Linked DNA regions of Homo sapiens. The protein of the gene in region 3 purifies or fractionates together with the protein of the main gene of each other region. This does not show direct contact. Each region holds a gene or a part of one and is shown on either strand. Other genes may lie near its edges. The genes, in order: OLA1, PEPD and NAMPT.

Region 1 (3,655 bases), on a different chromosome or scaffold from region 3:
CAAGTGTTCCTTTTTCATTATTTATCCTTTCACTAACCTTAAAATATAAAACATCTCAAAAGTGATTAGGGTGTACTAATAGGTAGCAGATTCAGTGTGGATTTGTGAAAGTGATCAAGGGTGGCCTTTTAGATTGGTGGCAAGTAGGACAATCATGTTCTTAGGTATTCCGAGGAGCTCCTGTCATAGAGATTCCTCAATGAACAGAGCATGGCGTGACCAAGTGAGGCATGTCTTAAATTCATGTAATGTAAAACATGAGCAAGTGTGGCTGTCCTGATTTCAGTCTTTCCTGGAGCTTGAAGAGGTTTTCATTTTGAAGGGGTTTCCTGCTGTGATATAGTCTGCTTGCAGAGTAAGACTAAGTAGAGAGTTGAAATGTAAGCAAAACAAATAATTAATCAAAATACTGTAGGGTGCTATCAATAAACGTGAAAGCAAGCTATGATCATTATTTATGTTGTGAGCTTTATTGCACTAGTAAGGAAGTTAAGTTTTGAGATATTGACATACTTCTCATTCTAGAATTGTTGCAGTTACTACAACTTGATTTTAAATGGGACTATATTAAAATGGGCCATATTAAGTGTTTTCTGTACATATAGGCAACCCTCTGTATCTGTGGTTTCACATCCTTGGATTCAACCAATCTCAAATCAAAAATATTTTTTTAAAAAATTGGCTGGGCATGGTGATTCATGCCTGTAATCTCAGCACTTTGGGAGGCCGAGGTGGGTGGATCACTTGAGGTCAGGAGCTTGAAACCAGCCTGGCCAACATGGCGAAACCCCATCTCTACTTTAAAAAAACACAACAAAAATTAGCCGGACATGGTGGCAGGAGCCTGTAATTCCAGATACTCGGGAGGCTGGGGCAGGAGAAACAGCTTGAGCCCGGGGGGTGGAGGTTGCAGTGAGCCAAGGTCCCGCCACTGCACCCCAGCCTGGGTGACAGAGCGAGACTCCGTCTCAAAAAAAAAAAATTTTTTTTTAATTAAATAAAAAATGAGAATATAACAGTAAAAAAAATAGTAAACAACTATTTACCTATCATTTACATTGCATTAGGTATTATACTACACCATTGTATATAAGGGACTCAATCTGCTGGAATCTTAGAACCAATCCCCTGCAGCTATGGAGGGACGACCATAGCTTTTTAGTCATAGAGCATAATGAAATTAATGTACGTGGAAGTAACCTAAAAATATTTTATTATTCAGAATAAGTGTGTGTGCTGTTTACACTTTTAAATAAAATGCTTTCCCCTCCCAGTGTCATTGAGGTATACTTCACAAATAGTAAAATTCACTCATTTTAAAGGTACAGTTTAATGAGTTTCGGCAATTGTATTTGGTTGTAAACACTACTTTTTGTAGAATGATCTTACTTCACACAACTGTATCAGGTAGGATTCTTTGTAAGCAACACAATTCTGGCTGTTTTCAGCAGGAAAAAGAGGTTTATTGGAATAAGTGAATTACAATCTGAACAGCCAGGCCTCAAGAGGGATAAGAGCCAAGTGGTGCTGGCAGAAATGGGTCCATGTGGAGCTCAGCCATGTGAATCCCTGGATTTCTGGGTGTTTCTCATTTCCTGTCTCTCCTGTAATTCCAATTCCTGAGTAAGGAAATCCGACCGGACTTGTGTGCTTCTGTATAGATCTACAAGATATAGATTGTGGGAGGGAGACGGTTCTCTAAAGGATGGCCTGCTGATCAAAAGTAAGGACATTCAGTACAAAACCATCTAGAGAATCTCTTGGTTTTTAGCTGGGTGAATAGGAAGGCTTACTTTTTAGTCTGCATAAGGCTGATGACCCAGAAACTTAGAGGTAATATTTATAGCTAATCAGATATTGAACATTTACTATATGCCAATCGCTATTTTGAGTACTTTATATATATTATCTAATTTAATAAGTGGTTTGACATTCCCCTCCATTGCAATTTAAATTCTGTGAAGGTAGGAAGGTACCGATTGTCTCGTTCTTGCTTATTGGTATATTTCTAGTGCCTAGACTGGTGTTAGAAACATAGTAGATATTTAGTAATTATTTGTTAACGGGACACGATGGTGTTAGGAACATAGTAGATATTTAGTAATTATTTGTTAATGGGATACATATTTCCCCTTTGACGGCTGGATGTAGATTTAGTGATAAGGAGACATGTTTTTGTTTTTTGAACAAGATTTTATTCTCTTGCCCAGGCTGGAGTGCGGTGGCATGATCATGGCTCACTGCAGCCTAAATCTCCCGGGCTCAAGCAGTCCCTACTCCTCAGCCTCCTGAATAGCTGGAACTGCAGGCACACAAAACACCGTGCCTGGTTAATTTTTGTATTGTTTGTAGATGGAGTTTCACCATGCTGCCCTGAGGCTGGTTTCACAGCCTGACCAGCGTGGTGAAACCCCATCTCTACTAAAAATACAAAAATTAGCCAGGTGTGGTGGCACGCCCCTGTAATCCCAGCTACTCAGGAGGCTGAGGCAGGAGAATTGCTTCAACCTGGGAGGCGGAGGTATCAGTGAGCTGAGATCGCGCCACTGCACTCTAGCCTGGGTGACAGAGCGAGACTCCATCTGAAAAAAAAAACAACAAAAACACAAAAAAGCCTGTCTCCTTGCCCCGTGTGGTGGCTCACGCCTGCTGGAATTACAGGTGTGAGCCACCGTGCTGGGCAATTAAATGACCTCTTTTAATGAAGTAGAAAGAATATGGAGATTTGGTTTCTAGTTCTGTACTGCTTTTTCTTACCTGAGTGACCCTTTATAAATGAGCTCCTGTTGGAGCAGTGTATTATTGTGGTTGTGAGGCTTAGAGAATATTGGGGGCGAAAGTACGTTTTGATACAGTGTTCCAAACTTCTTTATTTCTGTGAGGGATAGCTCTTCTTGTTGCTATCCACTGCATCAGATGGGATTAGGTTCAATTAAGAGCATCAGAAAACCCCAGATAACCAGTTTTTTTTCTTCATGTAAAAATGTACATTTTGCAGTCATAGCTTGGTATAGTGGACCTGCTTTATGAAGTCCTCAGGAACCCATGCTCCTTTCACTTCACAGCTTGGCAATCCCTAGGATGTGGCCTCATCCTCATGGTCTAGAGCTAGGGTTCCCGAACCTCATGCTGGGGACTGGTACCGATCTGTGGCGTGTGAAGAACCAGGCTGCATGGCAGGAGGCGAGCAGCAGGCGAGTGAGCATTCCCACCTTAGCTCCACCTCCGGTCAGGTCAGCAGCAGCATTCGATTCTCAGAGGAGCGCAGGCCCTGTTGTGAACTGCGCATGCAAGAGATCTAGGTTGCACGCTCCTTATGAGAATCGAACTAATGCCTGATGATCTAAAATGGGGCAGTTTCATCCTGAAACCATCCCCCACACCCTTGGTCCGTGGAAAAATTGGCTTCCATCAGCCAATTCACGGTCCAGTCCCTGGTGCCAAAAAGGTTGGCGGCTGCTGGTCTAAGGTGTTGTGAATTCCAGGCAGCTGGTTATCCGAAGGGTCAGGGGGCCAAACTTGACTAGCAGCCTTTTTCCTGTAAACTGCCATACCATACTTCTGCCAACATCCCTTTGTCCAGAATTTAGTCACAAGAATTTAGTTGCAAGGAAGGCAAGGAAATGTAGTCTTTATTTTGACAGCCACATGTTTG
Region 2 (3,326 bases), on a different chromosome or scaffold from region 3:
CCCATGGGGATGGAGGGGTGACTGGAAGGAAGGAAACCTGACGTTGGCAGGCCCTTGCTTCCCCCAGGCCCCTGGCTTCGATTGCTGTGGGTGGAGACAGGGACGGACACTTCAGGAATAGCATGAAGGAGAGGGATGGGCGGCGGTGGGGTGGGGGAGCCCAGCACAGGCTTCGGATGACAGGGACGGGAAGGTCCTGGAGCAGAGACCCTGGGACCCCCAGCAGCTTCTGGGCAGGAGACAGGCCCCAGCTCGGTCCACATGCACCTCTCACCTGCGCAGAGGGACTGTCACTCCATACGGTTCCTCAGCCACGGGGCATCCCTGCCCTCCGGCCTCAGCTCCCGGTCAGCGGCCCAGAGGCAAGTGTTGTGGGGCCGGGGCCACACCAGCCAGGCTGTGGTGTCTCCTCATCGCCTCCCGCCTGGCCTGCTCTCTCCAGGTCAGCGTGGCTGTCCCTGCCCTCCGTGGAATCAGTCACAGCCTCTCTGGCCGTGCCCAGCGTGGAGGCCGAGCCAGCCTGTTTCTGGTTACCTTACGTGAACTGCTAATTGGAGTCTGATGTTCTTGGCCCCCAAACAGTCAGAAATGACAGCTCCCGCTCCAGCAGCTGGGCTTCCTGGGGAGGGAGTGCAGCCGGGCAGGGCAGGCTCATCCCCTGACCAGAAAGCATACTCGTGCCCACTGGCTCAGAGGCCCTGGCCGCCGGCCGGATGGTGCCCCGGGGACCTGAGGCGAGCAGGAGCTCTCCTGTAATTCCCAGAGCACCCGCTGCCCTCAGCCAAGCTGAGGCCCCCTCAGCTGTGCCTGTGAGTGGACAAGGCCAGGCTGGGTGTGCACTGGGGCAGTGTGGGGCGCAGACAGGGGCCCCTGCAGGGAGCGGCTCTACCACTGTCCCTCAGGCGTTCTCCAAGGCTGGGGGCTATTTCCCAGGGCCCTGCCGTAAGGCCCCGAGCTCTCCTCTGGGAGCCACACCTGCCAAGCCACGCGCACACGGCACATTTGCACTGGCGCACTAAGGCTGGCAGACCCACCCTGATGACGGCACCTGTCCTCCCTGGACAGTCACACGGAAAATCTGGGCCTCGGCCTAGGGGAGCTGGGACCACGACTTCTGGGGCCAGTTTCTACTTGGGCTGCCTGGAAGGAAAGCTGTGGCCCCAAGGGGCTTCACAGCCGCCTTAAGAGCTTTTTTGGCTTCAGTGGTTTGGCATCTGCCACTCCTCTGGCCAGCAGCGGGGCCTGGCTAAGGGCAGCCCAACCCTCAGCCAGCCCCACAGGCCTGTCTGGGCAGCTTGCCCCGGGTGTGTGCACATGGGTGGCCACAGGGCTTCTCAAGCAAGCCCTAGGGTAGTGTGGCCAGGGACACTCAAGATCCAGGGGTATGTGCAGGGTGGAAGGTCTTATCAGGGTGCCCATGGCCCAGCACAGCAGGGGCGAGTCTAGGCTGAGGACCCCAATGGTCAAGAGAGCCCACGAGACTGGCACCGGCCCTCACATGCCCATCTCTCCTGATGAGGCCACGGTGAGCCCTGGAGCTGCTCATCAGGCCCCTCACCTCTGTTCCCCACAGGGCGTGGAGCGCATCGACGAGCCCGGCCTGCGGAGCCTGCGCACTGCACGGCACCTGCAGCCAGGCATGGTGCTCACCGTGGAGCCGGGCATCTACTTCATCGACCACCTCCTGGATGAGGCCCTGGCGGACCCGGCCCGCGCCTCCTTCCTTAACCGCGAGGTCCTGCAGCGCTTTCGCGGTTTTGGCGGGGTGAGTGCCCACGGGCCCCATTCTTGCTCCCAGAACATCTGCCACCTCCACTGCAGCTGCAGACTCCTTAGTCCCAAGACAGGGGCCCTAGTGACATCTTCCCTTGAGGTGGGCTTAGCCTGCCCCTTCGTGTGGTCTGTCACAGGATGGAGCCTCACCCCTCAGTAGGAACAGACAGAGATCCTGCAAAACCCCTGCCCGCTCCAGGGGCTCCCATCCACCTGGCAAAGACAGGGTGAGCAGGTGACATGGGCAGATGGCTCCATGAAGGAGCCCGGAGGCCACCCGTCTCCCAGGGAGTGTCAGCTGCTCCCATCCCATGGTGGGGTGGGCCTGGAATGGGCCCGGCCCTCTAGCCTGGCACATGAGGCTGCTCTATGATAATGTGTGTCTGTCGGCTTGACCCAGGTCCGCATCGAGGAGGACGTCGTGGTGACTGACAGCGGCATAGAGCTGCTGACCTGCGTGCCCCGCACTGTGGAAGAGATTGAAGCATGCATGGCAGGCTGTGACAAGGCCTTTACCCCCTTCTCTGGCCCCAAGTAGAGCCAGCCAGAAATCCCAGCGCACCTGGGGGCCTGGCCTTGCAACCTCTTTTCGTGATGGGCAGCCTGCTGGTCAGCACTCCAGTAGCGAGAGACGGCACCCAGAATCAGATCCCAGCTTCGGCATTTGATCAGACCAAACAGTGCTGTTTCCCGGGGAGGAAACACTTTTTTAATTACCCTTTTGCAGGCTCCCACCTTTAATCTGTTTTATACCTTGCTTATTAAATGAGCGACTTAAAATGATTGAAAATAATGCTGTTCTTTAGTAGCAACTAAAATGTGTCTTGCTGTCATTTATATTCCTTTTCCCAGGAAAGAAGCATTTCTGATACTTTCTGTCAAAAATCAATATGCAGAATGGCATTTGCAATAAAAGGTTTCCTAAAATGGTCCTTTGTGCGTGGCTTCCCCTTTATTCCTTTGCAGATGAGCATTTGGGACCCCGTGCACCCTGAAAAGATGGCTCACCTGGTGTCAGTATCAAGTCAGTTCCAGGAAGATGGTGCTGGCAGCACAGGCCCTCTAACGGCTGCTTCTGCCTCAGACTGGCCTGGCGGGACAAGGGCAGAGTCCTCCCCGAGGAGCCTGCTTTGAGCCCCTGGGACTCGGGGCTCTGGTGTCACCCTGTCACTTGCTGCAAGGTTTCCCAAGCCTAACAGGCATCAGAACCACTGGGGCATTTGGTAAGAGATTCCTGGGACCCCCACAGACCATCTGACCCAACGTCTAGGGGCAATGGCCCAGGAATTGTGTATTTCACAAGCGCCCGCCAGATGCTCCTGACAGACAAGTGTGAGAAGTACTCCTAGGCAAGGTGGTTTTAGCTTGTCAGTACCAGCGCAGCCCGAGGTTTGAGGTGGGGCAAGCAACGCTGCAGGAAGATCCTAGGCACTCAGGTCAGACTGGCCAAGTCACCCCGCGCCATGCCTTTGCGCAAGTTAAAGGGCGGACTGATTTAACACAAGTCTTTCTGATACGGTCACTGCCTCCAAACTAGATTTCTGAAGGTGGTA
Region 3 (3,248 bases):
TTTTTACCTTTAGATCAAAAAGTAATATTTGAGTAGGAATGTCAGCTTACCTAGCCATCATATATTAAAGACAAGCAAGTATATAATCACTGACCAAACTGTTACAGGAAGGTAGAATATGAGGTTTGGATTGTTATACCACAGTCATGTTCTAGTAGCCATAGAACAGCTAGGCAAGTGAACAACAACCCCCCTTGCTTCTTTGTAACGTCTTGAGAGCTGGAGATTCTATAGAGCAAGGGACAGAGGCAGGAGGATGCTAAGAATTAAGAACACCTGAGTTGATTCCCTGCTTCACTCTTTGATCTTTCTTTGGAAAGTTCTGGGATTGACTCATTTGTTGCTGCTTGTTCCACTGCCACTTGTTTCTGTTTCTTTGCTGCCTACCTTTCTGATGTAGAAACACTCTGCTGTCTTCAGGTTCTCTAAGACTTTTGCTTCTGACAATAACAAGGCAAAAGTAAAAAGTACCAAAAGAGGGATACGTTATGAAATAGGAAAGCCTTTACCTTAGTAATACTCTTGTTCCCTCTCCAAAGATTGTGTGTGTGGTTTTGGCGTAGTTGGTATAGTTGGGCTTTTCTTCAACAGCATGTACATGCTGTGCTTACTGTCAGTTTAAAGGCAGTTTGTAATATAAAGAGATACCTTAAGGGTCACATGTTAGAATGCTCACAGACTTCCTACAAATGGAGTATTAGGTGTTCTTCAGTGGCAAAAAGGATATCCAAGATGTCATACTTTTTCTTTATTACAAACGACTATCCTTCAAAACAGGCTAAAGTGTTATGTTTCTGAAAGCCAGATGTGGATTGGTTCAGTTATACCTATTAAGTGCTTAAAACTTAAATGTAAATTATGTATGTGCTTTTTTGTAAGGGAGTGTTTAGACATTTCTGATGATTAGTCTTCTACTTGTCTAACTTTCTTAATTTGGATTTCAGATTAACGTCTTCAAGGACCCAGTTGCTGATCCCAACAAAAGGTCCAAAAAGGGCCGATTATCTTTACATAGGACGCCAGCAGGGAATTTTGTTACACTGGAGGAAGGAAAAGGAGACCTTGAGGAATATGGTCAGGTATGTATCTATGCTGATTGGTTTTTTTAAGCAATAGTAGGTTGGCTCACCAAATTAATAAGAAAGGAGGTTTTTATGTTATTGTTTTTGTGGAAGACAAAGTATTATATTTTATTATAAAATGTCCAATTGCTGACCTGGCCTACCAAAATAAGATACAAAACAAGTGTCTACGTCATAAACACGGGGCCTGTGTATACATAGGGAGAAATATTACGTAAGTATAGTGATTGACAGCAAGTTTGTATACACTTTATCCAAAAGCAAACTATGTTACTTTAATATAAAATGTGAAAACAAGGTGACTTGATTTGGATTACATAATAAATGGTGAAACCTTGATTTAACCAAGTTTTCTGATTCAAATCAACCAAACTAGAAAAATTTACAGTACACTAAAGTAGTTCATATGATCTAATGGTCTTTAGCATACAAAAGTACATTTATATTTGTGAACTCAAGTTAAAAAATTTTTGGTTTTTAAGCCACTTGATCAAAAAAAACTTTAGACAGAACTATTCATGAATATTCATATTATTAGAAAAAAGTACACTAAACATGAGTGCACTATTACTTCCTATTTTGATTCTTTATACTACATCACAATTACTGCTTATAACATGTTACTTTTACATTTATTAAGGTTTTGAGCCAGAATTGAAATAACTTTGTTACCGTTAATGAAAAAATATGTTTGTAAATCAAACTTTTAGAATTAGATCCCTTTATATAGCCTGTTAGGCAATTATTTGAGTAAGCTTTGTGTAACTCTTGTACCTACTAAGATTTTGGCAGATTTAGTTTATCCTAGATGAGCTAAAGTCACTTCAAACTAAAAGTAAAAATCTAAGTGTGATTTTTAAAAGACACTGATTTAAGAGTATGTGAATGATAGTAGAATAAACTAGAAAATAATTCATAATCATCTAGGCAATTTGATTTAAGAGTAGGAACTAGTATTCCCTTAAATTTAAATTTGTGAAAGAAAATGCTACAGCTAAAGCACTGTGGTTTGAAGCAACACAATGACAGAAATATTAGATAATGTCATATGCACCTCAATCTTCAGACTAGGTGGAAAATTGAGATTACTTCTGTGGATTTTTCAGAGAGAAACCAGAAGCAGGTAACTCCTTAGTGAGACAGGAGTGGCTCTACCAGACCCAAAGGGAATTTAATTTCTTCAATCTGTCTTTGCTACTCTTGTATGGATGAAGTGGATTACCTTTGTCATTGACTTTTGGAGTATAAACAGAATCTTTAACCCAGTCACTGTGTGTTAGTCAAGAATGCAATACTTGTTTTTCTTTGTTTCTGTTTTGGGATTGGCTTTTGGCTTTTTGTGGGTTTTCTAGACCCAAATTTAGCACTAGCAAATTTCTTAAACTTCCATTTGATAAGTTTAATCACTGTTGAGTTTGTTGGCCAGGAACAAGGCAGGGTTTACCAGGCTTTTTTGCTGCACACTCACAATGATTACAGTTCTCCCTAGGCACCCAGGCATCTTCCTTCAGCCTGAGGAAAAAAAAGATTGGTCAGCTAGGTTTCTTGGTTTTCCTTTAAGAAAACTGGTTTAAGAATGTAGTATTAAGGTCATTCCTTTTCATAGAAGTTAAATATTTCTACATACCAGGCAACTCAGTGATTGGCCATTTTAGATAGTACCTTGTTCCACTAGCATTTTTTATGCATCAAATCATCTCACAATTTGAACACCATTGGCATCTCTGTATTTGACTGGTTGGTTAGTCTAATTCATCAAACCAGGATTCAGGTATTTTGCTTAATAATGTAATATAATCATGAAATTTCCATTTATGCAGGATCTTCTCCATACTGTCTTCAAGAATGGCAAGGTGACAAAAAGCTATTCATTTGATGAAATAAGAAAAAATGCACAGCTGAATATTGAACTGGAAGCAGCACATCATTAGGCTTTATGACTGGGTGTGTGTTGTGTGTATGTAATACATAATGTTTATTGTACAGATGTGTGGGGTTTGTGTTTTATGATACATTACAGCCAAATTATTTGTTGGTTTATGGACATACTGCCCTTTCATTTTTTTTCTTTTCCAGTGTTTAGGTGATCTCAAATTAGGAAATGCATTTAACCATGTAAAAGATGAGTGCTAAAGTAAGCTTTTTAGGGCCCTTTGCCAATAGGTA

Evidence for each region.
Region 1: the proteins of NAMPT (region 3) and OLA1 fractionate together in Homo sapiens (co-fractionation; one large-scale study listed by BioGRID). This does not show direct contact.
Region 2: the proteins of NAMPT (region 3) and PEPD fractionate together in Homo sapiens (co-fractionation; one large-scale study listed by BioGRID). This does not show direct contact.

What each region holds. Positions count from the first base shown.
Region 1 is NC_000002.12:174,241,957-174,245,611, reverse strand, and holds part of OLA1 (obg-like ATPase 1), read left to right. Parts: intron 1-3,655. UniProt on the Homo sapiens protein: Hydrolyzes ATP, and can also hydrolyze GTP with lower efficiency. Has lower affinity for GTP.
Region 2 is NC_000019.10:33,386,329-33,389,654, reverse strand, and holds the end of PEPD (xaa-Pro dipeptidase), read left to right. Parts: intron 1-1,573; coding exon 1,574-1,765; intron 1,766-2,173; coding exon 2,174-2,311; 3' UTR 2,312-2,705; downstream 2,706-3,326. UniProt on the Homo sapiens protein: Dipeptidase that catalyzes the hydrolysis of dipeptides with a prolyl (Xaa-Pro) or hydroxyprolyl residue in the C-terminal position.
Region 3 is NC_000007.14:106,250,848-106,254,095, reverse strand, and holds part of NAMPT (nicotinamide phosphoribosyltransferase precursor), read left to right. Parts: intron 1-944; coding exon 945-1,079; intron 1,080-2,902; coding exon 2,903-3,013; 3' UTR 3,014-3,248.